Linked DNA regions of Homo sapiens. The protein of the gene in region 2 interacts with the protein of the main gene of each other region in a pairwise test. Each region holds a gene or a part of one and is shown on either strand. Other genes may lie near its edges.

The links.
Region 1: the proteins of C1orf21 (region 2) and DRAM1 interact in binary tests that used the Homo sapiens proteins (3 or more experiments, as listed by UniProt).
Region 3: the proteins of C1orf21 (region 2) and PPP2R5A interact in binary tests that used the Homo sapiens proteins (3 or more experiments, as listed by UniProt).

The regions. Positions count from the first base shown.
Region 1 is NC_000012.12:101,912,577-101,922,579, forward strand, and holds part of DRAM1 (DNA damage-regulated autophagy modulator protein 1), read left to right. Parts: intron 1-1,597; coding exon 1,598-1,656; intron 1,657-7,532; coding exon 7,533-7,625; intron 7,626-8,639; coding exon 8,640-8,684; 3' UTR 8,685-10,003. UniProt on the Homo sapiens protein: Lysosomal modulator of autophagy that plays a central role in p53/TP53-mediated apoptosis. Not involved in p73/TP73-mediated autophagy.
Region 2 is NC_000001.11:184,381,403-184,391,811, forward strand, and holds the start of C1orf21 (uncharacterized protein C1orf21), read left to right. Parts: upstream 1-5,626; 5' UTR 5,627-5,966; intron 5,967-10,409.
Region 3 is NC_000001.11:212,349,341-212,359,343, reverse strand, and holds part of PPP2R5A (serine/threonine-protein phosphatase 2A 56 kDa regulatory subunit alpha isoform), read right to left. Parts: intron 6,527-10,003; exon of another isoform or gene 6,394-6,526; intron 2,719-6,393; coding exon 2,668-2,718; intron 2,395-2,667; coding exon 2,275-2,394; intron 2,188-2,274; coding exon 2,060-2,187; intron 659-2,059; coding exon 557-658; intron 1-556. UniProt on the Homo sapiens protein: The B regulatory subunit might modulate substrate selectivity and catalytic activity, and might also direct the localization of the catalytic enzyme to a particular subcellular compartment.

The DNA.
Region 1 (10,003 bases), on a different chromosome or scaffold from region 2:
TGATGAAATGATCAGAGAATCTTCTGTGCTCTCTACTTCTTTTATTTTGAGAATCAGAAGCATTAAACTCTGCACAATTTGCGGGGGGTTGGAGTTAAGAGAGATGACGCTGACTCTGAATTCAGAGGAGGCTCTAAACTTTCCTTGGCTCAACATTTTTTTTTTTTTTTTTTTTGAGACAGAGTCTCACCCTGTTGCCCAGGTTGGAGTGCAGTGGTGCAAATTCAGCTCACTGCCACCTCCCAGGTTCAAGCGATTCTCCTGCTTCAGCCTCCCAGGTAGCTGGGATTACAGGTGCACGCCACCATGCCCAGCTAATTTTTGTGTTTTTAGTAGAGACTGGGTTTCACCATGTTGGTCAGACTAGTCTCGAACTCCTGACCTCAGGTGATTCGCCTGCCTCAGCCTCCCAAAGTGCTGGGATTACAGGTGTGAGCCACTGCGCCCGGCCTAACATTTTGAATTTCTAATATTTTGCAGACTTTTTAGAGCATCCCATTTCTCTCTAGCTTTCTTTTTTGCATTCTAAGTTCAATCAAAATGGTTATCACTGCCTTCATGCAGAAAGTATTGCTGGTGGAAGATAGGAGCCTCAGCCCCTGGCATTATTAGGCTGGACTGTAGGCATGTGTCAGTCATCCCTGAAGTCTGATATGGGGCGAATCTCTTTGATTTGCCAGATCTTTGGTCCAGGAAGGAAGGGCTCACCTTATACCCAATTACCCAACAGAAGTCTGTTTTTTAAAGATAATAGTTTGAGTTTCTGTAGCTTGTTTTTGTATATGAGCCTTGGCACTTTGGAATTTAAAATTTTCCTTAAAGCTGTTACCTTGGAAATAGTATTTTAGGCCGGGCACGGTGGCTCATGCCTGTAATCCCAGCACTTTGGGAGGCCGAGGTGGGCAGATCACCTGAGGTCAGGAGTTCAAGACCAGCCTGACCAACATGGAGAAACACCGTCTCTACTAAAAATACAAAAAATTAGCCAGGCATGGTGGTGGGTGCTTGTAATCCCAACTATTCAGGAGGCTGAGGCAGGAGAATGCTTGAACCCAGGAGGTGGAGGTTGCAGTGAGCTGAGATCGCGCCATTGCACTCCAGCCTGGGTGACAGAGCGAGAGTACGTCTCAAAAAAAAAAAAAAAAAAAAAAAGGAAAGGAAAATAGTATTTTAGGGAAAAAGTATTTTTATTCAGTGGGAAGTATTCAAAAAGAACCATCCTGGACTGCTGCGTCAGTCATTTTGACCGAATTTAAACAGCTAGTTTAAATGGGAAGATCCAGAAACATGTAGGGTTGTGCAAAATGTAGTGACAAGTTTTAATAAATTTTACTATACACACTGGAAAACTATTGCGAAGGTATTTCCGTGTTGTGATTTAACTCTCATCATTGAATTTGAAGTTTGAGTTTATAAGAAGCTAATATAACTGGTTTGATTGTAGAAATGTTGGTATTAACATTTTAATTGATGATAGAAATGTTGGTATTAACATTTTAACACCTTATAATGATTATGTTATTAGGAGAATAATGTAGTCTTAACATTAAAGGAACTGTTGTGTGCTGTAGTTTCCTTAACTGTTTACTTCTTTCAGTGATTGTCTGTGCTTCACTAATTTCCATAACCAAGCTGGAGTGGAATCCAAGAGAAAAGGTAACATTTAAGTTGTTGTGAATGTGGTTGTCGGACGTGGTTATGTGAGCTTGTGGCCAGGCTAGGCATAGGGAAGATCACTGCCGTTCCTTAGAACAAGTTGCAAAATGTCAAATAAACATGGCATGTAATCAATTTACTGTCCAATCATTTGGCAGTATGTAGTAATTAGCTATCAGGGTAATTCCAAATGCTTCCTGGAAGTATTTTCAAAATTTTGAGTTCCTAATTTCTTTCTTTCTTCTTCTTCTTCTTTTTTTTTTTTTTTGAGACAGAGTCTTGCTGTGTTGCCCAGGCTGGAATGCAGTGGTGCAATCTCAGCTTACTGCAACCTCTGTGTCCCAGGCTCAAGCGATTCTCCTGCCTCAGTCTCCCAAGTAGCTGGGACTACAGGCACCTGCCACAAGGCCCAGCTAATTTTTGATTTTGTTTTGTTCTTTTCTGAGACAGAGTCTCGCTCTGTCACCCAGGCTGGAGTGAAGTGGCGTGATCTCAGCTCACTGCAACCTTTGCCTCCTGGGTTCAAGTGATTCTTGTGCCTCAGCCTCCCGAGTAGCTGGGACCACAGGCGTGCGCCACATGCCTGGCTAATTTTTGTATTTTTAGTAGAGACAGGGTTTTTCCCATGTTGACCAGGCTGGTTTGGAGCTCCTGGCCTCAAGTGATCCCCCCGTCTCGGCCTCCCAAAGTGCTGGGATTATAGGCGTGACCCACCGCACCCGTCCCTCTAATTTCTTCCTTTTCTTTCTTTCTTTTTTTTTTTTTGAGACAGAGTCTCGTTCTGCCGCCCAGGCTGGAGTGCAGTGGCACAATCTTGACTCAGTGCAAGCTCTGCCTCCCGGGTTCATGCCATTCTCCTGCCTCAGCCTCCTGAGTAGCTGGGACTATAGGCGCCTGCCACCACCCCCGGCTACTTTTTTGTATTTTTAGTAGAGATGGGGTTTCACCGTATTAGCCAGGATGGTCTCGATCTCCTGACCTCGTGATCTGCCCACCTCGGCCTCCCAAAATGCTGGGATTACAGGTGTGAGCCACCGCACCTGGCCTTTAATTTCTTTCTTAAACACTTCAACTATCTATCTTTAGTAAAAGAGGGTAGAGGGACAGTGTGAATGAAGGTGTTTGGTGGTGAAAGGGAGCGTGGAATGTTAAGTAGAGAGGATGATACCAGCTCCAGTGTGGTGGATAGTTCATTTCAGGATAGAGTGAGAAATCACTGCAGCCGGGGATAACTGTGCAAGGGTGTAGTGGCTGTAAGAGGCAGGCAGAGAGGCTTGTACTTGGCCTAGGTGACCAGAGTAAGACTTTGAAGACTTTTTTTTTTTTTGAGACGGAGTTTCGCCCTTGTTGCCTAGGCTGGAGTGCAATGGCGCGATCTCGGCTCACTGCAACCTCTGCCTCTCAGGTTCAAGCAGTTCTCCTGTCTCAGCCTCCCAAATAGCTGGGATTACAGGCACTAGCTGGGATTACAGGCGTGCACCACCATGCCCAGCTAGTTTTTGTATTTTTAGTAGAGACGGGATTTCACCGTGTTAGCCAGGATGGTCTTGATCTCTGCACCTCGTGATCTGCCCTCCTTGGCCTCCTAAAGTGCTGGGATTACAGGCGTGAACCACCACGCCCAACCTGCAGACTTTCGAACGGTAAAGCAAATAGAAAGAGTATTATTAGATGAGTGTTAGACAGAAGCAATGCCTGGGATGGCTTGGAGAGCTTGGCATTAGGAGGGCAAGGAGAAGGCAGTTCTACTAGTTCACGTTTCAAATAGGGGAAATCTGATGGGTGTTGGCAAATGATTAACACAAGAATGAAGTGGCATGATGAATCAAAGATGACTTCTAAGTTTTTATCTTAGGTGAACCAAAGAATTTATTCCCTTGACCAGAAATAAGGCCCCTAACAGGGATAAATAATTTAGTAGGTGGAAGTGGATGAGTTTGGTTAGAGTTGATGATTCTGAGGATATGATGAGATATCGAGGTTAGAAACATGGGCCTAGGCCAGGTGCTGTGGTTCATGCCTGTAATCCCAGCACTTTGGGAGGCTGAGGCAGGAGGATTGCTTGAGTCCAGGAGATGAAGACCAGTCAGGGTAACACAGTAAGATCCTGCCTCTACAAAAATTAGCCAGACGTTGTGGCATGCGCCTGTAGTCCCAGCTACTTGGGAAGCTGAGGTGGAAGGATCACTTGCACTCCGGTGGGCCTAGACTTCTGGTGGGACTGGGAGTCGTCAGAGTGTAGGGTAGAGTTGTTAGAGTATGGGGTAGACCAGGACATTTTGGACCAAGCATCAGAACACATGGAACCAAATGTTTGACATTGAGATCAACCCATCCTGTTAGATACCTGTAGTAGTGGTTCATCTAGACGCCTTATAGGAGAATCAAGGATGCCCCAGGAAAGAAGAGAGTTAGTGAGAGACAGAGGATTCTTTCCCCCAAGGATCAGGTGGAAGAATACCTCCAGCAAAGGAGAAGTAAAGGGATCATGGACCAGAGAGAAGAACTAGACTTGTGCTGTATGGTAGACCTCATTGATGAGTCCCTACCACATGCAAGACTGTGAAAGATTATAGAGGGCAGGGTGGCCATGGGATAGAGGATCCTGAGGGATTTTATAGTTCAGAGGGGCAAACAGCCAGTTGTCAATGGCTAAATGTAATACTTTGAAGAATAAAAAAATGCTGAACTGGACTTCAGACAACACATTGTGGAAATGCAGAAGCAATAGCAATTAATCCTAACGATGGAATGAGAGGAGATACGATCCCAGAGACTAAAGGACATTTTTCAAAGGCAAGGGAAATGGCTAACTATGGCATATGCAGCTGAATAGCCTTTAGGAATGAAGTCCCTCAATTTGGGCAATAAGGGAGTCAGTGATGTTTGTCAAAAAGTAGTTTCAGTAAAACGCCGAGGTTAGAAGCCAATGGCAAGAAGTTAAATAGTGAGAGGGATGGTTCTTTCATTCAGCTATCAACCAAATGTTTATTGAGTCCTGTTCTGGACTGGAGGTAAGAGGTAAAGGAGGAACACCAGGGTGGCTAGAGGAGACAGCAGGATTTCCCAATATGGAGAACTCTGGCAGGTAATGGAAGCCTGCCAAGACAAGAGAGAGACAGAAGATGGTGAGGAAGAGAATGATCCAGACAGGAGATCAAAAAGTGCTTCTTGGCCGGGTGCGGTGGCTCAGGCCTGTAATTCCAACACTTTGGGAGGCCAAGGCGGGTGGATCACTTGAGGCTAGAGTTCAAAACTAGCCTGGCCAATATGGCGAAACCCTGTCTGTACTAAAAAAAAAAAAAATTTTTGGTGTAGTGGCACACACCTGTAGTCCCAGCTACTTGGGAGGCTGAGGCAGGAGAATTGCTTGTACCCAGGAGTTGGAGAGCTGGAGGCTGCAATGAGCCGAGATCATGCCAATGCACTCCAGCCTGTGCAACAAGAGTGAGACTCCATCTCAAAAAAAAAAAAAAAAGCCTTCTTTAAAATCTAACCTTAAAATGGTCAAATTCGTCAATAGGTTAGACCTAGGCAAAAGGCAGGTTTTTTTCTTTCTTATATATGGGGAATTAGCCCCATCATGCGAAGGGGGTTCAGTTCCTCTTTCCGTTGGAGAGAACCTCTTTCTGAAAGTGAGACCGCATAGCGGAGCAGTTCAGGTGTACTTTACTTTTCAGCCACTCGGGGGAGACCTTCTATCACAAACCCGCTGCTGGGAAGGGCTTATCGAAGTATATTCCCAGGCAGTTAAAAATCTGTTATATTCCACTTTCTATCTTAAAAATGTGAAAAGCACATGGTTTTCTATTCACTCCATAAATGACTGCGCCACTCTTGCATTTCCTTCTGTTCCTAATATCAAAGGATGTAAAAAAATTTCCCTTTACATTAATTCACTGAATAATCATTTAGGTACTGCCTCAAACTTCTGTGTAGTGCTTTACAGCTTTCACAGCACATTTATATGCAGTGACTTACTTGGTAGGGGGAGGTGAGAATTATAATGTCACTGTCTCATTTCACATAGCAAGGATATTAGGGCTTTGCCTGCATTCAGGACTCTTGGTTCCATGTACTTTCACTAATATCATGCTTAAGAAATTCCCCCCAAAGTTCTGCCTTTATTTTTAGAAGCCATCTTCCTTGTTCAGGGATGATACGGGATGTGGCAGGTCCCCTGGTACTGGTACCAGAAGGAGGAAGCCTCTGTTCTGTATCTCCTACTGTAGGCTGGTCAGGTCCTCCTCGGTGTGACCTAGCATGAAAACAGTGGGTGAGTGTGACCATGACAAGGAGAGTGAAGAGTGACGCTCGGAGGGCTTGGTGTGCCTCCACTCGATCTGTCTGGATGAAAACAGGATCAAAGAAAACAACTGTCACCATGGAGCTGCCCTGTGATCCAGCACATTTACTTACCCTTGTAGCCTACAGCAGTTTGGGGTAGAAGAGCAGTGGGCTCAGCCCTCAACAGCACATGCCAAGGGCAGAGCAGCCCATGTATGCAGCTTCAGAAGGCATGGGGGTGTAGGGAGTTAGGGGTAGTTGCTCATTTCAGCAGAGCAGAAAGTGACGTAGGAAATCAGAGGGGGCACACTGACAGTCCCCAGGCCTCATTTGGCATGTGAGCTAACATCAGAATGCAGACATGCATATTTGACTCAGAGTTTTATTTATTTTTATTTTATTATTATTATTATTATTTTTGAGACAGAGTCTTGCTCTGTCACCCAGGTTGGAGTAGAGTGACGCAATCATGGTTCACTGCAACCTCTATCCCCCAGGCTCAAGTGATCCTCCCAGTTCAGCCTCCCAAGTAGCTGGGACTGCAGGCGCAGGCCACCCCACCCAGCTAATTTTTTTTTGTCTCGTTATGTTGCCCAGGCTGGTCTCAAACTCCTGGGCTCAAGTGATCCTCCTGCCTCAGCCTTCCAAAGTGCTGAGATTACAGGTGTGAGCCATTGCAACAGAGTTTTAAAATTAGTTTCCAGCACTGAAAAATCAGGAGATATCACACACAGACACATCCACAGACACACAGACACACACACGCACACACACACACACACACACGGTTTTGTTTTTTTAAACCCCTTTGAAAGCAACACTAGTGTATTATTTTCCCATGGAATTGAGCTGATGAGGCGTGGGCTCCCTAACTTCCCTCTCTTTTCACAACCATCAGTTTTATTTATTATTGTTAATTTTCTGGCCTCCATAGGCAACTGAGTTTGGAACATCTGATTGAAGCCATTCTCCTTGGCTTCCATTCTCCCATTCTTGCCTCCAAGAAGATATACAGTTAACATGTGGATGTCCATTATTAGCATTTTCTTTGTAGCTGTATTTACCTTGGGATGTTAAGCAGAACTATTTCCTGAATGATCATTTCTATATAAACAGGGAAACACGAAACCTAGGGGACTAGTTGGCCAAGTTCATCTAGATGTGTACACACTTTCTTTGGAACAACTGCGAGAGTGCTTGTTAAGCATAGCCTTACACTTAGGGATTCTCAGCAGAGCGAGACCAAGTCATGCCTTGTATGGAAATTTCTTTCTTCTGTTGAGTCCAAATTTGCTTCCCAGTCTCAGCCATTTTGCAGTCCTTAGTCTACCTTTTGAAGTGACAAACTAAATCTTAAAACAAGAGTTTGTGCGAGCCAGAAAGAACTTTGGAATACCTGCCTTCGCATTCTCAGTGGGCAGGTGCCCTGACACTTAGTAACGTGGTTGTGCTTACCGTATATCCTCAAAGTTCTGACTTATGCTCACTGGACAGCTTTTTCCTTTGGTTGAAACTCCTCATTGTATTTCAGTATGTACATTAAAGTGAGTCTTTTTCGGCTAAATTCTGTTTCTTTATTATTGCATTAGGATTATGTATATCACGTAGTGAGTGCGATCTGTGAATGGACAGTGGCCTTTGGTTTTATTTTCTACTTCCTAACTTTCATCCAAGATTTCCAGGTAGGTGTTTATCAATTCAAATGTTTTAAATTGCGGACAATTAGGATTAGTAAAAATTTGCAGAAGACATTTTGCATTTTTAAAAAGAGCACTTTCTTTTTTTTTTTTTTTTTTTGAGACGGAGTCTCGCTCTGTCGCCCAGGCCGGACTGCGGACTGCAGTGGCGCAATCTCGGCTCACTGCAAAAAGAGCACTTTCTTTTTATCCTTAATGTGTTTGAGAAAAATCTGTAAGGATTGTGCAACTTCATGTGTTAGCTTATTCCCAATGGGAGGCATCTTTAATAGCTCTCCCACCAATGAGATTTTCATATGTCCTCTGCTGTTTGATGTTAATAGTCATGTATCCTGGTTGTTTTCTTTTAGGAGGTCTCACTTACTAGTTCCAAATAATACAAAGTAAATATATCTTTTTTAAAAATAAAAGTATGCCAGGTGTGGTGGTTCACATCTGTAATCCCAGCACTTTGGGAGGCCGAGGCGGGCAGATCACCTGAGGTCAGGAGTTCGAGACCAGCCTGACCAACATGGAGAAACCCCGTCTCTACTAAAAATACAAAATTAGCTGGGGGTGGTGGCACATGCCTGTATTCCCAGCTACTCAGGAGGCTGAGGCAGGAGAATCACTTGAACCCGGGAGGCGGAGGTTGTCGTGAGCTGAGATCATGCCATTGCACTCCAGCTTGGGCAACAAGAGCGAGACTCTATCTCAAAATAAATAAATAAATGAATAAATAAAAAATAAAAGTGTGTTGTTCAAAAAACATTCCCAAAGCAGATAGAAGATGGGACTATATCAGATTTGTCCACAGGAAAAATCTTACATTTTGAAACAAGTGAATTATTAGCTCAAAGGATATAGAAAGCCAAGAAAATTCTTTAGGACCTGACTCAAGCATAGCACAAACCATAGTGAGATCATTCCTTAGGTGGTGCAGAGCTGTTGGAAATGTCATTGTCAACGCTGGGATTGTTTAACTTCTTTTAAACCTTTCTCTTTCATTTTTAAAAATAGAGTGTCACCCTAAGGATATCCACAGAAATCAATGGTGATATTTGAAGAAAGAAGAATTCAGTCTCACTCAGTGAATGTCGCAGGCCATTTCTAAAAGTGCTACAGAGGACAGACAGGGTTTTGAGGCCACCCTGATTATTGGGATGCATCTGCAGCACATCCAGGACTTGAATTTCATTACGAGTTCCTAATAGTTGTATTTCTAAAGATGTGTTTCCTAGAGAATGTACAGCCTTATGACACTGTAGTGATGTTTTTATAATTTTCTAAGTAGATTTTTTTATATTAACAAATTCATATACAGAAAAAATAAGGTGTTACAAAAAATGGAGAGCTCTTATTTTTGTACAGATTCTGTCGTTTTTGTTTTATTTGTGTGAGATTTATGGAAATACACTAAATGAGTAATTCAGGTTCAGTACATTTATTACAAAGTGAAATCAGGGGATATTCATTTGTAAATTTTATTCTTAGTGAATGAACTGTATAATTTTTTTTATCAGGAGAGCACTTATAAAATTCAATTTATAAAGATCATATACCCAAATCATAAAGATTTAGTTGATACATTAACACTAAGATACTCTGATTTTTAGCCGAACTAAACAAAGTGCTTCTACTGAGAGGCCTTTATACCACCATGTACAGTAACTCTAAGTGAATACGGAAGACCTTGGTTTTGAAATTCTGCCACCTTGTTTCTCCCTGCTCATGAGGTCGCACCTTTTGCTCTTGCTGCTAATTGCCCATTCGTAGTGGGTGTAATGCCAGGTGGAATGGTTTCAACAAGTCAGGTGAAAACCATCCTTTATTGTTGCTGGCACAACTTGATATATAGTCTGACTCAGAACTGAAGCTCACATCTCAAATTCATTTCATGCCAGTAAATGTGGCAAAGAGAAGAAAGGCCCAAGAGCGAGACAAGAAGAATGGAGAAGGGGGCAGCCAAGAAGAACTTCTGGGTTCAGGGTACTGTTTATTTGCTCCTTCTCTTCATGCCTGTGGCTGGATGTCCCACAACACTATAAGAAATATAAGTCAAGCCCTTTGTGTTAAGCAAGAACTACAGACTCCATCTTTTCACCCAAATCATGAATGACCAATAAAAAGCAAGTTATTCCAGAGGAAGAAGCAGCCCTTGAAATGTTAAGGCTTAGGCTTGAAAGGTGAAGAGCAGGAATTCTCTCTTTCAAATCCTAGAGCATAAACCCATGTGTGGCCAAGTGAGATCAGCCCTCAAGGGCACATGCCAAGGGCAGAGCAGCCCATGTAGACAGCTTCGGAGGGCATGGGGGTGTAGGGAGTTCGGGGTAGCTCCTCATTAACTATTTGTTGGGTGAGTAAAGGGGTGAGGCTCAGTGGCA
Region 2 (10,409 bases):
CCATCTCTACTAAAAATAGAAAAAGGAGCTGGGTATGGTGGCGCATGCCTGTAGTCCCAGCTACTCAGGAGGCTGAGGCAGGAGAATTGCTTGAACCCAAGAGGCACAGGTTGCGGTGAGCCAAGATCGCGCCACTGCACTCCAGCCTGGTGACAGAGACTCCATCTCAAAACAAAACAAAACAAAACAAAACAAAACAAAAAACAAACCAAAAAAACCCCTAAGGAGAAAGCCAAGAAGAAAATAAACAGATAACAGATATAAACAAGAAAGTAAGAGCTATCTAAGGTCTGGAAAAGCTGGTTACTCAGAGTAATTCACACATCATTGAAAGACCAATTAGAACCATTAGCAAGTTGTTAGCACTGACTTTAAACTCTGCTCTGATTTAGCCTGGAACCATCCAGAAGGAGCTGCGTCACCATAAGTGGCACCATTATAAAATAAAAATGCATAGACAGCCCTCCATTCACAGCTGCTTATTGGGTCCTTTACTTGTGTGTGTGCTGTGGTATCCCCAAAGGAAGATTTTAAACACCCCCCACCACACACACACACACACACACACACACACACACACACACACACACACAAAATCAAGCCTGGTGGAGCTAATGTAAAAGATGTGGAAGATCCCTAACAGTGTAAGGCTGTAGAAGATCCTGGATACTTCAAAAGTTCAGAAACTCAGAAGCTGAGATCACTCACTTAGGAGTTAGGGTTTGAGCCTGGTCTTGAAAGACGAGTAAAACTGAGGCAGAAAAACAGAGGAGATTGAAGAGAAAACATACTTCTTAACAGTTAAGGCTGGGTGCAGTGGCTCACGCCTGTAATCCTAGCACTTTGGGAGGCTGAGATGGGCAGATCATGAGGTCAGGATATCAAGACCATCCTGGCTAACATGGTGAAACCCCGTCTCTACTTAAAAAATACAAAAAAATTAGCCTGGCATAGTGGCGGGCGTCTGTAGTCCCAGCTACTCGGGAGGCTGAGGCAGGAGAGTGGTGTGAACCCAGGAGGCGGAGGCTGCAGTGAGCCGAGATCGCGCCACTGCACTCCACCCTGGGCAACAGAGTGAGACTCTGTCTCAAAAATAAATAAATAAATAAATAAATAAATAAATAAATAAATACAGTTAAACACATGGGCTCTGGCATCTGACTAATGAAAATCAACTACTTTACCTTGCACTCATGACTTCACCCCTCCGTGCCTCTGTTTCCACATCTGCATGGGAATGATGATAATATTAGCATCTATCTGAGTGTGTTGTCAGGAAGATGAGTTAGTTTGTATTATGAATTACATGATGCCATGCTTGACATACAGCAGACAACCAGTGTTAGCTGTGATTGCATGGAGCAAATGGAAAGAAAGCACATTTCAGAGTAGTCTTCAGCTTAGGGTCACTTATTTTTGAATGTCTCTGCCAAAGCTACTTTTGAACTTGATTATTCAGAAAAATTAACTTTATGGGAAAACCTTTAAAAAATAAACCACATAAAATGAATTCATTTAGATTTAGATGAGAAGTTATAGGAGAGTGGTGTGTTGCTTTTACTATCTTTTAAACAATCATATATTTTCCTTGACAATCAATGATAAAGGGAACCTATTGTCTTGGTGGGTTCAGGCTGCTGTAACGAAACACCATAGACTGCACGGTTTAAACAAAAGATATTCATTTCTCACAGGTCTGGAGGCTTAAAGTCCAAGATCGTGATGCCAGCCTGCTCAGGTTCTTGGTAGAACCCCTCTTCCTGGCTTAGATGGCTGTCTTCTTGCTGTGTTCTCATATGCGGGTGGGAGGGAACAAGCTGTCTGGCTTTTCTTATCAATGCACTAATCCTATCATGAGGACCCCACTCTCAAATTGTCAAACTCCAATTGCCTCCTAAAGACCTCACATTCTAATACCAACACATTGAGGGTTAGGGCTTCAAACATTCAGTTTGGCCTACAAAAGCCCATGGAAGGGCATATCATATTTAAAAGAAAAAGAAGAAAGAAATAATTCAAACCATTATGTTATGTACAGTCCTACAGATGCAAGTCTTTATCAGCTAAAGCTTTAGGACTAAGAGAAAATTGATAATGAGAGTGGTGCCTTTGAAGATTAAAATGTAACTTTTCTGGGCAAAAAGAATATTAAATTTTTGGAAAATCATATTTAGAGTGTTTGAAGATATGGAATCCAGAGATTCTGGTGGTGTGGAAGGGTGATGCAACCAGGGGGAAAAAAATCATGTTCTTCATTCTTTTTATGTAAATATGCTTATAGTCATCTTACTAATTATAAATAGCTACAGAGATTATTCTGTGATAAAATGTCTAGTAGATTTAGCTTGTGCACACCAAGCAGATTTGCAATTTGTGGCCACTCCTGTTGCACAGTTAGTGAGTTGGTGTGCATACCAATGCCCGATGTGCCTCTCCAGCACCTTAGTGGCCAACCTGTCTGTCCCCTCCCCTCCCATTTTGTTCTTCTCTCCCTCCTTTCCTTCTGCAGCCCCTATAGAAGTCCCCAGTCCCACTGCCCCTGCTGTGGCCAGGTGCAGGGAAGTGTGTGTTGGTGGTGATGGGAGTCTCCCTCTCACCTCTTCTAAATTTGTGGGGGAGGGGAGCAGAGGTGTCCCGGGGATCCCAGGTAAAATGAGGAACATTTCACATTGAAGCAATGTTTATCAAAGCAGTTAATTTCTATAGAAATTCCAGCACCAGAGAGAGTAGGTTTACTCAAAAGCAAATGGGGCTTAGACCTTCATTTACATGAGCCCAATCAAGGGGTTTTTGTACTTTTGTCTTTCTTACATTGAAGGTAGCTCCCCAAATTGTTTCACGACCTTCATTTACATTAGCCTCTCCTAAGGGGTTTTAGTACTTTTGTCTTTTTTAATCTTGAAGGTGGCTCCCCAAATTTTAAGTGCTTCAAGTCCCACAAAATCTGGATTGTCTCTGGTCAGCATGGTCATTTAATTGTGGGATTCCTTCCATGGGCTTTTGTAGGCTATCCTGAGAACCTTACTACTGTATAAAATGTTGCTTCTGTGGAGCAGTTTCTATGAGAAACAAACAACACTTACAACACATATACAATCTTTTCTTGTATTGGTAAATTGTCTGATCTCTAACTAGGTACTTAATAAATGTTTGTTGATTGAATGATGATGAAATAAATGAAGGGAAAACAGACAAACTTGAGGCACTTATTGAATGCTTTTCTCTAGATGGTGGAATTATGATTTTCATTTTCTTTGTACTTAGCTTTTTTCAAATGTTGAAAATTTCCACAATGGACCTGTATTATCTTGAGTAATCTAAACCTAGCTTTAAAAGTTCGTAGTATAGATGTTCTTTCATCTACACATGTATGAAGTGCTTCTTCTGTGGCCTTCGGTTAGTTCTAAGGATATCAAGCCAAGCAAACCCCATAGCCTTGCCCTCAAGAAATCTACAGTACCAAGCACTGTCTGAGCCCTGAAGGGGTACACAGGTCAACATCACAGAGCTCTGTCTATTCAGGGTGGTCTATGTAGATGAGAGAAGGAAAAAGGAGGGGGAAGAACAAAACTTATTGTGCTCAAAGATCCTTTTATATGGATGTACACACACACACACACACACACACACACACACACACACACCCCTCAGTTATGTATTTATTTCATTTTACCACAGGCAAAAGTTTCAGGCAGGGCGTAAAAACCCAAGGGAAGAGTGGACTACATTTGAATAAATCCATCAGCTGTGTCCATTCTCCTCCCTAACTTTTCAGAAGGAATGGAAAGAGAATAAAATTCTACCAAATTTGAGTTTAAAATAATCAAGTCTGAAACAATAGCTTCTATTTATTGAGTTCTCACCCATGTGTCAGGCACTATGCAAAGTGTTTTACATGCATTGCCACCTCGTTTTATTTTCTTTTTACTTTCACAAGCTTATGAGGTAGGAACGATCATTATCAATGCCTTTACAGATGAGGAAAGAAAGAAGAAATGAAACAAGTCACCAGTGGTGAAAGGGATGGGGCTGGCTGCCCCTGATTGAAATCTCAATTTATCTACCCTCCCTTCTTAACCGCTCCTTTCCAAGAGGCTAGACTACAAAAAATTTGGGCTCCAAGAAGTATGAACCAGAATATGGATATTTTGTAAAAATGGAATGTAAGTTGAGGTTCCTGAACAATGTGATGTTAGGCAGGGTGCGGTGGAATTGGCCTGTAGTCCCAGCTACTTGGGAGGCTGAGATGGGGAAGATCCCTTGAGGAGGATCTCTTGGGTTCAGGAGTTCGAATCCAGCCTTGGCAGCAGACCCCATCCCTGAAAACAATAAAAATTAAAACAACAACAGTGGGATACTAGTCTTTTAATTTGAAAAAAAAAGGGGTGGAGAAAGGGAAAACCAGTTTTCAAAAAAGGCCAATTTCCTAGACATTAGTGGTTGATTACTAACTCATTTCATTAAACTAAATTATGAATTGGCTTTTCTCGTCAGTGTCACCACTCTGATGGCGTTCTTTTCCATTTTCCATCTTCACCCTGGCCGAATGTGGGAAATGATCTGGTTTGTGCATAATCCGCGAGGCCCAGGGAGGATCTTTTGCCCCTATTGTTTTCTTGGGTGTTCTCACTCTGGGGGCCTGACATTCCTCGCGTGTCTAAGGCAATGAGGGAGCAGTGAAGCGCGGGGAAGCCGCACAAAAGACATCCAAAGGCTATCAATGGAAAAAGATCAATTAGGTGCACACAAGAAACACCCAATATGCCAGGGAAGAGAAAAATACCCTTTTCCAGAGGGTGGGAAATTGATTGAGCTTCTGTGAGGGTCCACAAAGAACTGGACGGATGCAGTGGTGGATGGCGATCTCTCTGGACCACTCCGGACGCGCCCAGCAGACGCAGCCTACGCCTTTAGGTCCTAGGAGGCTGAGAAGGGTGGGGAGAGGGGGGCAGCACGATCTTGTGTCTTTCCTCCCCGTGCCGCCTCTACCGAATCGCGGATGCTTCATTAATCTTGCAGGCGCCGCAGCTCGGGTCAGTATGGAGGCGGATCGGTGGCAGAGCCCGGGCCTCTGGGCTGCGCCCGCCCGTTCAGCCTGGCCCGGGAGGGGAGCGGCCGCGCGGTGGGCCAAAGACGCCCGGCCTTCCCTCCGTCTGCTTCCAGCAGGCACAGCCGGGAGGCTGGGCTCAGGGGCTGACCCGAATCTCCCCTAGAGCTGGGCCCACCCGGCTGCCCCCCGAGCAGCCTCGCCGCTCCCACGCCACCGCCCAAGTGACAGGCCCGGGAAGGCCGGACGGGACGCAGTCTTCCCGCCGGGGTCTTCCCTCCGGCTGGCCGGCCGCTGCAGGGCGCGCGCGCACACACGTACACACACACACACACCTGCCCACACACACACACACACACACACACACACACTGCCGCCTCCTTCCCGCCCCGCAGCCCTAGCAGCCCCCAACCCGCTCCCCAGCGCGCTGCGCCCCGGCGGCCTCCGCAGGCCCCGCCCCGGGGAGGAGAGCCAGGCGCGCGCGGGAGCTAGGCTCGGGGAGGGGCCGGCGGTGGGGGAGTGTCTGCTGCCCCCGCCCCTCGAGTGAGTGACTGAGCGAGGAGCTCCCCTCCCTCGCTCGCTCCTCGCAAGCTCCCGCTCGCTCCCTGCCCACTCCCGGGGGGACGTTCCGTGCCGCGGCCGCCGCGGCCGCTGCTTCTTTCACACTTTAGTTGGGAGCTGCGCGCCGCGCTCAGTTACTGGAGAGCTGGCCGCGCGCCGCCGCCTCCCGCACGCTTGCACGCGGGCCCGGCTTCGGGGTTTTGGGTTCTTACTCCAAGCGGCGGGGAGGAGGGGGAGCCCCGGACACACTGTGGGGAGGAGGAGGAAGAAGAGGAGGAGGGAGGAAGAAAAAAGACGAGGAGGACAGGGGCGGGGGGCGGGAGGCTTGCCACCTTCAGCCCCCCCGCGAACGCCCAAGGTAAGTGTGAGCCATTGCCTGCTCTGGGGCGGGGGGAGCTGGCGGTGCAGCCCGCCCCGGCTCGGCTACCCGGGCATCCCCGGGTGGGCAGGGAGGGAGGCCTGCGGGGTGTCTGCCGCACGGAAGGGATGGGAGCCGCGGTCGTGGCGCTGCCTGCGCGGGGCCCGGGCCGGGGCTGCTGCTGGTGCGGGGCTGGCGGGGTTGCTGCCAGGGACGGAAGCTGGGGTGGGGGAGCCGCGAGGGGCGTCTGCCGGCCTGGGCGGAGGGGCTGGGATGTGGTCGGGGCTGCTGACGACTTTCGTCACATCGAGGCCTGGGTGGCTGGTGTTAGACACCCCTCCCTTCCCACCCGCACCCTGCCGCCCTCAGCCTTCCTGCTCTCCTCTAGCTTTGCATGTAGCCACCGTACTTTGCAAGCCAGAGCTTGAAAGGAAAAACACAATTTAGGATCCTTTGCTAAGTATCCAAGTCCCTTCTCTCGCTCCGACTGATTGATGTGTTTGTGTGGGTGGTTTGACCCCCGGGATTTCTGAAGTTTTGACCTTTTTGGGGTGGCTCGTTTCGTTGCATCTGTTTGCCCACCTCGGTGTATTTATTATTCGTGCCCATGCGAGGCAGCCAGAGGGTGCTTGGTTATTGTACACGAAACAGATTTCACTCTCCTCTGCAGGCAGTTCGCGAAGTGCCGCCGCCGCGGCTGCCTTTGGTCTGCTGGTTAATGTCCTTTCCCTATCATCCACCCTGCTCCCTCCCTCTACGGAGGGTTAGTTTTTGTTTTTGTTTTTGTTTTTTCCTTTCCACTTACTGTTTGTGTGAGAGAAGTCCTGGGCTTAAGGGCTCTCAGCACTCGTTCATTTCTCTTCTAAAGCTCTGAATGGCTCAGGCATGTCGGTAAAATTTGGGGTGGTCCTCTTTGCTCCAAGAGTTGCATGGCCAAAGATAAAAATATGCACACATAAACACGCATTAATTCTGAGAGACGGCAAGCAGTTTGAGAGAGAAATAATTTGTTTTCAATAGGAAGTCGGTGACCTATGGGATCTCTTCCATTGCCGGTGGGTTAGGAAAATTGTTTTAAAATAGATAGTGCTTGTGTTGTCCGTGGCTGGAAGACAGCCATAGTTCAGTTACTGAAGCAATTCTGAAAGTGATACACCCTGGGCACCCAGAACCTCAGTAAAGACACACGTAGTCTGACTCAGATGTTAGGAAGGGGACTGACACACCATAGATTCCATGGAGTATTTTTTTCTTTCTTTTCTTTTTTTTTTTTGTAGGAGACTGTCCAGACCGTTTGGGGAAATGACAAGTTCATTACACAGACAGATGTAATGAACACCTCCCTATTCAAGGGGATGGGTTCAGCTTCTGCCTAATAGGAATAACCTTTTGATTTGATAGAATTGGAATGTACCAGGATAGAAACAAACATAGGTGGAGTGGGCCTGAGCTACTTCAGCACTGTTGTGGGGAGAAGGTGATGTTTCTGAAGGGTCTTTTAAGTTCAAGATGCTGAATTTGGAGTTTTCCCCCCTTTTTCATATTGTCTAGAGCTGGATTGTAGGATCAATAGAACATGTTCCATGTTGGCTGTTTGGAAATGTAATTGTCAGACATGGAAATTAATTTGGATTGGATCACCTATTTTTGTTTTGCTACTTACAAAGTAGGAAGTACCAGTGATAGGACAACGGAGTGTATTTATAGGCGTTAAACCAATGCTGGGACTGGTACTTCACAGATCACAAATGCAGCGTTGAAAGAGGATGTCACTCAATGTTTACTGCTGTGCAAACCTGCTTCAGAGAACAGTCCTGGAGGCTTCTAAAAAGGGCAACAAAGACCAGTGCGCTCAGCTCTTGGGTGGGTGGGTGCCTGAGGAGGGGCGGGGTGCTTCTGTTGTCTAGCTTTGTCACAACTGGGCATGTTTCCAAAGAAAAATGGCCTTGGGTGGTAGAGAGGTCTCACATCCTCCAGTGTTAAAAGTTCATCCTAGAAGGACCTTAAAGTTCCAGCTTTCCTTCTCAGGGTTGACTTAATTTAACTCCGAGTTTAGAAAACTGATAATTTTGTTTTCTTGGCTAGACATTTATCCCTCCTCCGCCCCATCTCACTTTATCATTCAACATGGGTTTCTGGGAATTAATAGGCCACTGTCTGAAGGGGTTTGATTCTTGAAGAATCACAGGGCATCATTCAAGAGCTTTGGTACTATTTGCTATGACTTATTCAAAAATCCTACTAAGGAGGAAGGTGGTTTGCTCTATTATAATTTCCAAGTGAATCATGCCTCAGTACTGTGTTGCCTTTGTGACCAGGCAAGCTTTGAGTTTTACATTCTGAGTGGCTTGCTCCAGGCTCTAAGCAGCCCCCTTCTATAAGACGTTTTTTTGTTTTTGTTTTTTGTTTGTTTGTTTTTGTCTAAAGGAGACACCAAAGGCTGGGAGAGGGAATGTCATGTCACCTTCCAATAGGGCAGGAGAAGGCAGGTGACATATTTACAGAAGAGTCCTAAGGTGATAAATATGACTGTCTTCATTTGAATTTATCAATACAACTTACAGCCATATAATGAGGCATCTTGTGTAGCTCACATGTTTAAGTACAGAGGTCTTGGGGTTCTGTATCCTTTGAAGTTTCCTTCCAGCTCTACTTTGAGGGTGGCCCTAACTAAAGGGTAATCGTACAGTAATTCCGGAGGGAGATTGTAGGATACTGCCAGTTAACAGAGAAATTGGTGAAACCTCACTGTCTTATGATACTTTGTTTTCCTCCAGCTTCTTAGAACCAAATATAAAGAGAGGAGAGAGCATTGCTTTGTTTGTATTTTCTCTCCTGATGTTTAGCTGGTATCTTAGAGTGTGGTCACTGCTCATTTCAGGTGATTTAAACTGTTTCATTCTGCACCTCCTCATGGGTGGAATGGAATCCAGACGCATCAAAGAGTTAGGAAAGGGTATGTACACATGGGTAAGCTTCAGACTCCAGCAAGTGCTCTGAGCAGCACAGTGCTGATTATCAATCAGGAGTGAGGGTATGGCAGGTCTGATCTTACAATGCAAGTTTACATGAAAATAATTTGTATGTGAAAGTTGATTTGCCTCCAGTTTTTTAGGAACATATTGACTACGTAAATCTACTTATACATCTAGTCAATCAGAATTCACTCAGAGATATTGGGTCGATCAGTCTTCATGAAAATATACATCTCCTAAAAATACTATTTTGGAAATGGATATAGTGAAGCCTCCCTCCCAAGGTGAGGGAAGGGTTACATGATATATAATACAGGTTGGAGGACCCTACACAATGTACGTGGTGGGTACTCAGATGACCTTTTTTTTTCCAGCTTTACTGTGTAAAGATACTTTTATGAATAGGCTTTTAGCAAACAAATACATCTTTGGCCACTTTATGGTCCTTCTTTGAGCCTCAATTTTAAAAGTCCCGTAGCATGCAGTAAATAAAAATTATGCTTAATTGGGTTCTTCATAAAACACAAAAAGCAGATTGCAATAGACCAGTATAAAGTACTGCTTAGAAAACTGAAAAAACAGGGATAGGGCTTGTGTACAAGAAAGATTGCGACAGTGAAACTATATTTTAAATAATGGTGACAGTTTTGACTTCCAGAGATCATAATTCAAGAGCTTATCTGAAGTGGCATGTAAATTACATACATACATATTTTTTAAAGTAGGCAATTATTTAGCTTGACTGTCTCGGTTCTGAAGTTTAATTTTACAAGTTATAGTTGCAACAAGAAACAACATGACATGCTGTGGTTATGCAATTATGACAAGAGTGGTTGGAGGTAAACTGGGCTAGGATAAACATAGAAATGAGCACACAACAGTGTCTCCAGTCACCAGGTATTAAGAAGTTTCTTTGCTTTTTTGTTAACTATATTACTAGAAAATGTATTTCCCAGGTTGTAGGCTAATCACCTAAACTAATGATTGCTTTCTCTTACATTTGTGAAAGGAGATGCAGCTTCCCCAGTCTAAAATGGAAGCTGAGAAGACTAATTGGCCAAGCTACTGGAAGGCTAGGCCCTTTTGCTCATCTCAGCAACCCCCATAGCAGCTAGCACACTACTTTGCACTTGGAAGTCACTCAATGAGTGATTGAATGGAATGGAATTTACCTAATTAGTTAAGATCTGCAATGTGTCAAAATTTCCTTGGAGAAATACATTAGATGTGGACTTAAGTTTTAATAAATGTGTATGGTAGTTTATTAAGAGCCCCATATTATGCCTCAGGTAGGATTTTTAAATGTTGAGACACATTTGACAGGAAACATACCAAGCATGATGTCCTCTCAAATTATTGAAATTTCTTTCTTTCTTTTTTTTTTTTCGAGACAGAGTCTTGCTCCGTCACCCAAGCTGGAGTGCAGTGGTGCAATCTCACTGCAATCTCCACCTCCTGGGTCCAAGCA
Region 3 (10,003 bases), about 28 Mb from region 2:
CTTCCCAAAGGAGAACTATGCTGACTTTAAAATACCACCTTCTGATAATCCACAGCGTAAGAATTACCTACTGCTAACAAAGAACACTTGAAAAGTAAAGCTCACTCTGGAAGCCCACGTGGACAAAAAGGATTTTCGTAAATGCATGGATAAAAAATCAAATTGTACAAATTGATATTTAAAATTCAGCATAAATTATATTTCATATGCAGATGCTAACAGACTGAGGAAATCTAAGGCTCAGAATGAGATAAACAGGATTTATGATCCACATTAAAATCATAATCTAACCATTTAGAGGAAGTAAATTATGTAACTACCCTCAAAAATAAATGCTACTGCTTTTTCTGCTTTAACAAATTTATAAAAATACTGGGGCTAGTTTATCTGGAAATGACTTATATGTTAAGAGACTTTCACATTGTAATGTTTACTATAAGGTAATTAACTTCTTAAATATGAAAATCTGAACTGAGAGAAGATACCTTCCTGAACTGAATCACATTCAACTAACATAAAATGTATAGATAATTTTGTAATTCAAAATATCAAATACCTCTGTCTTTCAGCTTTGTATGAGCTAGTAAGGTCATCGAAAAGCTTGCCATTCATTTCCATTAGGGTTTTCAGCACATTGTATACCAGTGCTACAATGGTCCTGAAATGAAAATGAGCCAGTCCTGAGTTATGATACTGCTAACAGAGAGGAAATGTAACACTATGGTCTCTAAAATGGGTTAAAGCTTGGCTGATTTCATTTAATCCATTTTAGAGATGATAAAACTGAGGCTCAAGAGGTTTGTAATATGCTCAAGGTCATACAGCAAGTGGTGGTAGAGACAGTCTAAGAAAACTTAAATCTTTTCCATTTTATCATGCTTACATTAAACTCTAGTTAAAAATGTTCACTATAGTTATCTTCATTTCTGCTTTACAGTCTCATGTCTGAAATCCTGAGTAACAACATTAAAAGAAGATGAAAAAGATCCAATTACCAAAACTTATGAAAAGTAGAAAGCCGGATAAGGATGTTAAAGAAGTTAGAATATATTACCCTTAGCACTTCGGCTTTCCCCTGGGACAGTGCCATTTATAGAGGGGAGACTATACACTGAGAGTAGACCAACACAACTCTGCATTAACGGAGTAGTTTGTGTATCCTCTGCAAATGTTCAGTTGGTCTCCCCAAGAGGGTTTGACCACAACCTCCAGGGAGATTTGCAATTTTAAATTGACATGAAGGCTGGGCACAGTGGTACATGCCTATAATCTCAGCACTTTGGGAGGCCAAGGTGAGATGATCACTTGAGCCCAGGAGTTTCAGTCCAGCCTGGGCAATATAGTGAGACTTCAACTGTCCAAAAAAAATAAAAATAAAAATTCGCTGGGTATGGTGGTGCACACCTGTGGTCGTAGCTACTCGGGAGGCTGAGGCAGGAGGATTGCGTGAACCCAGGAGTTTGAGGCTACGGTGAGGTATGATTGCACCATTGCACTCCAGTCTGGGCAACAGAGCAAGACTCTCTTTTTTTTTTTTTTTGGAGACGGAATCTTGCTCTGTCGCCCAGGCTAGAGTGCGGTGGCACAATCTTGGCTCACTGCAAGCTCTGCCTCCCAGGTTCATGCCATTCTCCTGCCTCAGCCTCCCGAGTAGATGGGACCACAGGCGCCCGCCACCACGCCCGGCTAATTTTTTGTAGTTTTAGTAGAGATGGGGTTTCACCGTGTTAGCCAGGATGGTCTCAATCTCCTGACCTTGTGATCCGCCCGCCTCGGCCTCCCAAAGTGCTGGGATTACAGGCGTGAGCCACCGCGCCCGGCTGTCTCTAAAAAAATTTTAAAAATAAATTGACATTAAGACCACATACTGAACAAACACACACATTTATAACTTGATAAAGGTATACGTATATAAAATACAGAATAGAATACAACTGATGTTAACCTTGGAGTAACTTCCAAATCTGTAATAGGTTTCAAGTATGAGTTAGGAAATCAATAACAAAAAGATATAAAAAAAAAAAAAGAAAAAAATACGACCTATATAAAAGATACTTACGGATTCCAGTGTTCTTTGGAAATTTTGTACAAACTGGCAAACATAATTGGCAGAATTTTATCAATGTTCTCCTCAATCAAACTAAGAATATATTCGTTATTCCAGAAGTACAATGCCCTTTCTGCAACCTAAAAAAAGACATTTAGAGAAATGTCAAAACTAAAATAGGAAAGAAATACTAGTGTAAAGTAAAGGCTTCACTGAAAACATCATACCTGAAAATGAGAACTGGATACACACTTGGATATCTGCTTGAAAAGTGGCTCTTCAATTTTTTTGAACTGTGTTGGTTCAATGACATCTAAGATTTCTTCAATTTCTCCTAAAAACATCACCTAGGTTAAAAAAATTTTATTTTAAGAAACATGATAAATTATGTGAAACTAATATAGAAACCATACAAATGAGAAGGTTAATCTGCATAGTATACAATAAGCAAAAAAATGTCTGGATGGCAGAGTTTACTATAGCACAGGTCTTCTACCAAGTCTGTGTACATCTCCCGCTCTTTAGCAACAGCAATACAGCCAGCCCAAAGAAGCATGGTTTATAGCCCTGGGATTGACAAGTTCTAGTAAAATGCACTACATTTAGTGAACAAAACCCACCTCTTTCTGACTGCAGGTTTTTGGCCAAAATTTCAGCAGTCCTCTGATCACCTGCGAAAAAGAAAAAGTTTAGCATGAATTTAATAACAAAGCTAGTTAATCCCAGCGTATTTTCCATAGCTGTGATTATATCAACACTCATTCTGAAGTAAATCAATATTGCTTAATATATGTGTATAAATAGACTTTCTGCTCAGCTTTAGAATTTTATTAATTCAACTAACATTTACTGGGTGCCTATTATGTACCAGATACTGTTCTAGATGCTAGGGACACACTGATGTACAAGACAGATGAGGTCTCTGGTTTTCACAGAGCTTACGTTCTAATGGAGGAAGACCAATGCAAGTGATCAATTAAACACATAAATAAAACAATTTAATAGTATGTGCTACTTCTAAGAAAATAAAGGAAAATATAAGTTGGTGGGGTGAGAGAGGGAGGTTATTTTAGGGAGAAACCTTAAGGAACAGATGATTCCTGTTATTTAAACCATTATGAAACACAAAAAAAAACCCTGGACAGCTTCTCAGTCTATTTCATGGCTAGCACAATCTTTATAACCAGAATACAATGAAACAAAAGAGACTATTTTTATTTATTTATTTATTTTGAGATGGAGTCTCACTTTGTCGCCCAGGTTGGAGTGCAGTGGTGTGATCTTGACTCACTGCAACCTCGGCCTCCCAAGTTCAAGCAATTCTCTGCCTCAGCCTCTCGAGTAGCTGGGATTATAGGCGCCCACCACCACACCCAGCTAATTTTTGTATTTTTAGTAGAGACAGGTTTCACCATCTTGGCCAGGCTGGTCTTAAGCTCCTGACCTTGTGATCCACCAGCCTCGGCCTCCCAAAGTGGAGACTATTTATTTAAATAAACAAAGTTGAAAACACTTGCATTAAACTGAATCACAATAGAAGAATGCTATATGCCTAATTGTAACTTATTCCAGAAATGCCAGGATGGTTCCATTCATAGGTTAAAAGGGGAAATAAAAAAAAAAAACCCAGATCATTTTAAAAGATTTTCAAGTCATTTGACATTTTTAATTGACTATATATTCTGATAAAAAAATTTAGTAAGCTAGAACTAAAAGAATTTATCAGAAACCACCAGCAATCATTCTACATAATGATTTATTAGAGACAGGCTGTAAAACCATCTAGGCCTGGTGGTTTTGTGGAAATAGATCTTTGACAGCTTTTTAGGTTACTTTATAGTCTGTCTGGTCCAGTAATGTGGAACACTAATTCAAATTAAAATTGGGAAGGATACTGTTTTGGAGACAATCCAGTAAGATAACAATGTGATGAATAATGTTGGAAAGGAATACCAGAATTACACTTATTTGTGTAACTGTATATTTATATATCCCTTAAAACTTAAAAAAAAACCCTGCAAGTTACTAGAGTGAGTAGGAAAATTCAGTATGTGGCCACATTAAAAAATACATATATAAAAATCAATACCTTTATAAAACATCAGTAAAAATCAGATGAATAATAAAAAGGTACTTTTCACAACAACAACTATAATGTGCATAAAGAATAAATTTGCAAGAAATACTTAAGACATATGGAGAAAAGCATAAAACTTTACTGAAGATCATAGAAGACTACAAATACAGTTATATGTCATTTAATGATGGGGATACGTTCTAAGAAATGTGTCATTAGGCAACTTCATCATTTAAATGTCACAGGGTGTACTTAAACCTAGATGGTATGGCCTACTACACACCTAGGCTGTATGGTGTAGCCTTTTGCTCCTAGGCTACAAACCTGTACAGGATGTTCTTGTACTGAATACCGTAGGCACTGTAGGCAGTTGTAACAATAGTATTTGTGTATCTAAACACGAAAGGTACAGTAAAAATATAGCATTATAATCTTATGGGATCACCATTTTTCTTTCTCTTGGAATCACATTTCTCTCTCTCTCTCTCTCTCTCAACATTTCTCTCTCTTTTTGATGAGGCCTCACTCTGTTGCCTAGGCTGGAGTGTAGTGACATGATCAGAGGTCATTGTAACCTTGAACTCCTAGGCTTATTGTAACCTTGAACTCCTAGGCTTAAATGATCCTCCTGCCTCAGCCTCCCAAGTAGCTGGGACTACGGGTGTATGCCACCACATCTGGCTAATTTTAATTTTTTACTTTTTGTAGAAACGAGGTCTTGCTCTGTTGCCCAGGCTGGTCTTAAAGTCCTGGCTTCAACCAATCCTCCTACCTTGGCCTCCCAAAGTGCTGGGATTACAGACATGAGCAACCATGCCCAGTTCCATTTTTATTTTTTAAGAGACAGTCCAGACTTGCATTGTCGGCCAGGCTGGGGTGCACTGGTGTGATCACAGTTCACTGCAACCCCCTAGGCTCAAGAGATCCCCCTACCCCAGCCTCCCAAGTAGCTGGGATTACAGTCCTGAGCCACCACGCCTGTCTGGGACTGACATTTTATATGTAGCCTGTTATTTTTATTTATTTATTTATTTTTGAGACAGAGTCTCGCTCTGTCACCCAGGCTGGAGTGCAGTGGCACGATCTCGGCTCACTGCAACCTCTGCCTCCCGGGTTCATGCTATTCTCCTGCCTCAGCCTCCTGAGTAGCTGGGACTACAGGCGCCCGCCACCAGGCTCAGCTAATTTTTTGTATTTTTAGTAGAGACGGGGTTTCACTGTGTTAGCCAGGATGGTCTCGATCTCCTGACCTCGTGATCTACCCGCCTCGGCCTCTCAAAGTGCTAGGATTACAGGCTTGAGCCACAGCGCCCGGCCCGTAGCCTGTTATTAAACGAAATGTCATTATGCAGCACATGACTGTAAATAAGTGAGGTGGTTCAATATTGTGCAGAGATATTTTTCCTGTACTTAATTTATAAGTAAATTTAATATAATTTCAATCAAATGCCAATTGAATTATTTTTTGGAACTAGAAACATTTATTCTAAAATCCATAAATATAAGCAAATAAGAATTGTTTTTTTGGTGGGGGGAGTTAATGGAACAGAACCTGTATTATGGATATCAGCAACTAAAACAAGATTATATTGGCAAAGAAATGGAGAGAAAAGATATATATGAGTATCTAGATATACTCATGTATATATGGATTTTAATATATGACAAAGGTGGCCTTTCAGTTCCATGGGAAACAGTGGTGGTACTGGGACAGGTAGCTCACTATTTAGAAAGGAAAAATGTAGCAGGCTCCTTTGGTTGGCAGACTTCTATGATGATCTCATGAGCTTGTTAACTGTCCTCACACCCTTGTGTAATCCCCTCTCCTTAAGTGTGAGCTGTCCTAGTGACTTGCTTCTAACGAACAGACTGTGGCAAAAGTGAAAGAATGTCACTTCATGAGTAAGATACAAAAGATTGTGACTTCTGTCTTACTAGTAGACTCGCTGTCTTGGCTTTGATGAAGTAAGGTGCCATGCTGGAGAAGCCTGGGTGACAAGGATCTGAGGGTGGGCTCTGGCCAACAGCCAGCCAGGAACTGAGGCTCTCAGTCCAACATAACTTGACAAACTGAATTCTGCCAACATACATGTGAACTTAGAAGCAGATCCTTCCCCATCTGACACTTTATATGAGACTCAACTTCTGGCCAACACTCCAACTGCAGCTTTGTAAGAGACCCTGAGCAGAGGGCCCACCTAAGCCATGACCAGATTCTGGATTCACAGCAACTAAGGCAACAAATGCTTGTCATTTTTCCTCCCAATGGAATGGTATTTTCCCAAAATCTTGCAGATCAGTTACAGCAAACAGAACTATGACCATCAAGGAAAACTGTCACTCTTGGCTTCTTTTTGACCACAGCAGCTACATGGAAGCAGCTGCAGCTTTGATAAAGGCCATAAATGCTTGCTATTTTAAGCCAATAAATTTTGTGATCATTTGATATGCGTAATTGAAAATGAATGCAGGCCAGGCATGGTGGCTCAGGCCTTTAATCCCAGCACTTTGGGAGGCCAAGGCAGGCTTGGGCCCAAGAGATCAATACCAGCCTGGGCATCATGGTGAAACCCCATCTCATCTTTACCAAAAATACAAAAAAATTAGCTGGGCATGGTGGTGCATGCCTGTAGTCCCAGCTACTTGGGAGGCTAAGGCAGGAGGATCACCTGAGCCTGGGAGGTCAGGGCTGCCGTCAGCCACAATCGTACTACTGCACTCCATCCTGGGTGATGTGGTGAGATCCTGTCTGAAAAAAAAAAAAACCCAAAACACAAACAAACAAACCCAAATGTAGTTCCTTACCCTCATCATACACAAATTTCAATGTCGGGCAGTATTGAATAACGAACACTGGGTTGACTAGTGGCCCCCAAAAAGATGTCAATGTGGGCCAGGTGCAGTGGCTTACAACTGTAATCCTAGCACTTTGGAAGGCCAAGGAAGGCACACTGCCTGATCTTAGGAGTTTGAGACCAGCCTGGGCAACATGATGAAACTCCATCTCTACTAAAAATACAAAAAAAAACCTAGCCGGGCGTGGTATCGGGCGCCTGTTATCTCAGCTACTCAGGAGGCTAAGGAACAAGAATTGCGTGAACCCAGGAGGTGGAGGTTGCAGTGAGCCGAGATGGTGCCACTGACTGCACTCCAGCCTGGGCAACAGAGTGAGTCTCTGTCTCAAAAAAATAAATAAAATATAAAATAAAATAAAAATAAAATAATAAAATAAAATATAAAATAAAATAAAAAAGAAAAATAAAAAAATTATTTTGGGGCTCAAGTTAGATTTTCTTGGAATAAGAACGGTGTTTTGTTTTGTTTTGCTTGTTTTATAAAAATGCAGCTTTGAGTGGAAGGAAAGGTTTACACTGCCAAAAAAATAAAAGTTTTGAAAGTCATGCCGACTCTTCATTTTTTTCCTCTTTACATGGAAACTTAGCTGTAATGAATATTTAGTTAATTCTTCCACTCTGCACTTTTTTCTTTTTAGACGGAGTCTCACTCTGTTGCCCAGGCTGGAGTGCAGTGCTGTGATCTCGGCTCACTGCAACCTCTGCCCTCCTGGGTTCAAGCCATTCTCCTGCCTCAAGCAATTCTGCCTCAGTCTCCCAAGTAGCTGGGATTACAGGTGCCCGCCATCACGCCCGGCTAATTTTTGTATTTTTAGTAGGGATGGGGTTTCATCATGTTGGCCAGGCTGGTCTTGAACTCCTGATCTCAGGTGATCTGCCTGCCTCAGCCTCCCAAAGTGCTGGGATTACAGGCTTGAGTAATAAACTAACAAAAGCTCTGAGCTACTTATAATTTGTAGAAAGCTTTGATAGGAATGCCTGCTTTCCAGAAAATTAGTATTAAGGCTTAAACCCAAGTAATATGGCCGTAATTTTGGTGCTGGAATGGCCTATGTTAGAAATTGCAAGATCTCTATATCGAGAGATCTTTATGAGTTGGAAAATATTTTCCTTTCTTAACCTGGGTATTTATCTTACTCTCTCTCCTCATCCTGCTCCTATTTTCATTAACCCAACTCAGCCAAACCAGATAAAAGCTGAATAACTGGCCATCATCCCTCTCCCTAATCGTCAAGGTTTTTTGTTTTTTTGTTTTTTTTTTTGTGTCATCTCGGCTCACTGTAACCTCCGCCTCCAGGGTTCAAGTGATTCTTGTGCCTCGGCCTCCCTAGTAGCTGAGATTACAGGCACACGCCACCATGCCCAGCTAATTTTTTTTTTTTTTTTTTAAGTAGAAATGGGGTTTCACCATGTTGATCAGGCTGATCTTGAACTCCTGACCTGAGGTGATCCGCCTGCCTCGGCCTCCCAAAGTGCTGGGATTACAGGCATGAACCACCATGCCCAGCCTCTATCTTCCATTCTTTAAAAATAAATCACCTGTCTTCCTTATCCACCCCAAATTAATTAAATAAAATTTTATTTGTATACTATTTACCAAGCATGAACCATGACTTTTCAATATGTGTTATTATGGGTTTTCTTTTTCTTAATTCTAATGGGAGTTATCATAGATTTGTATTAAGGTTTTACTTTTTTCTTTTTTTTTTTGAAGACAGAGTCTCACTCTGTTGCCCAGGCTGGAGTGCACTGGTATGAGCTCAGATCACTGCAACCTACGCCTCCTGGATTCAAGCAATTCTTGTGCCCTTGCCATCTGAGTAGCTGGGACCACAGGCCTGTGCCACCATGCCCAGCTAATTTTTGTATTTTAACTAGAGACAGGGTTTCACCATGTTGGCCAGGCTGGTCTCAAACTCCTGGCCTCAAGTTATCTGCCTGCCTCAGCCTCCCAAAGTGCTGGGATTACAGTTGTGAGCCACTGCACACCTGGGAATCAACTTCAGAGGTTTATGTGGTTTCATGTACAAATATATGGTTTCTAATTCTCCTGAATTGTCTTCAAAAACTGTTTACAGCTGTTTCTAGAAAAGACTGTAAATCTAAAAGTCAAAAAACTAATAAAAATTAAGGAGTGGAAAAATGTCTTTTGTTCCATTACACAAAGTTCAAGTGAAAGGGAGAATACTAAGTATATGATTTTTTCAAGCATCCCTACGGATAGCCTGAGAAGGTTCATAATATAGTAAAAATACATATATATTTTAGTTTTTCAAACCCTTTGCTATTTACTAAATATTTATTAGGTTGCTGCTAAAGTGATTGTGGTTTTTGCCATTAAAAGTAATGGCAAAAGCCGCAATCACTTTTGTACCAACCTAATACTAGGTAAATATTTAGACTGAACATGCCTAGAAAGCATTCTCTCAAAATACTTACTTCACCAAGGTTAAAATGTTTTCTATGCTTTTATACTTTTCTGTTTCACCCTACTTCATCTTTTGTTTTTCTTGAATCCTCAGTAAATTTTCATAACTAATTATGTTTTCACTCTCTCCTGAATTTTCATTCTAGAGGCAAATAACAGTAGAATTCAAAGCCTAAGTTGCCTTGCTGGTTCATAAACTACTTTTATTCCAAGATTACATCTTATATCTTAATCACCAAAAGCAAGGAAATGTTTTCTATCCCTATCAAGTGGTTTATTGTTAATGAGTGGCAAAAATTCTATTATTAAAAACAAAACAAAATTCAAGGGAGTAGTAGTTTTGGGACCCTCGAAGTATGCTTTAATTCCAAAAGGTGAATGAAGATTTAAAAGATTATTGGTGAAGACAGTATGCATATAAAATTTCACTGTGGTCATCTGATCCTATCATCGTACATCTTAACTACTACATATTAATAGTAGTCTATATTTCGGTTATTCAAGACATAACTCACGAGAACTCTCCCCTCCTAACCCCTTCTTTTAATGTAGATTAATCTCACATTTCTTCTTCTAAATGATTTTAGCTTAACGTA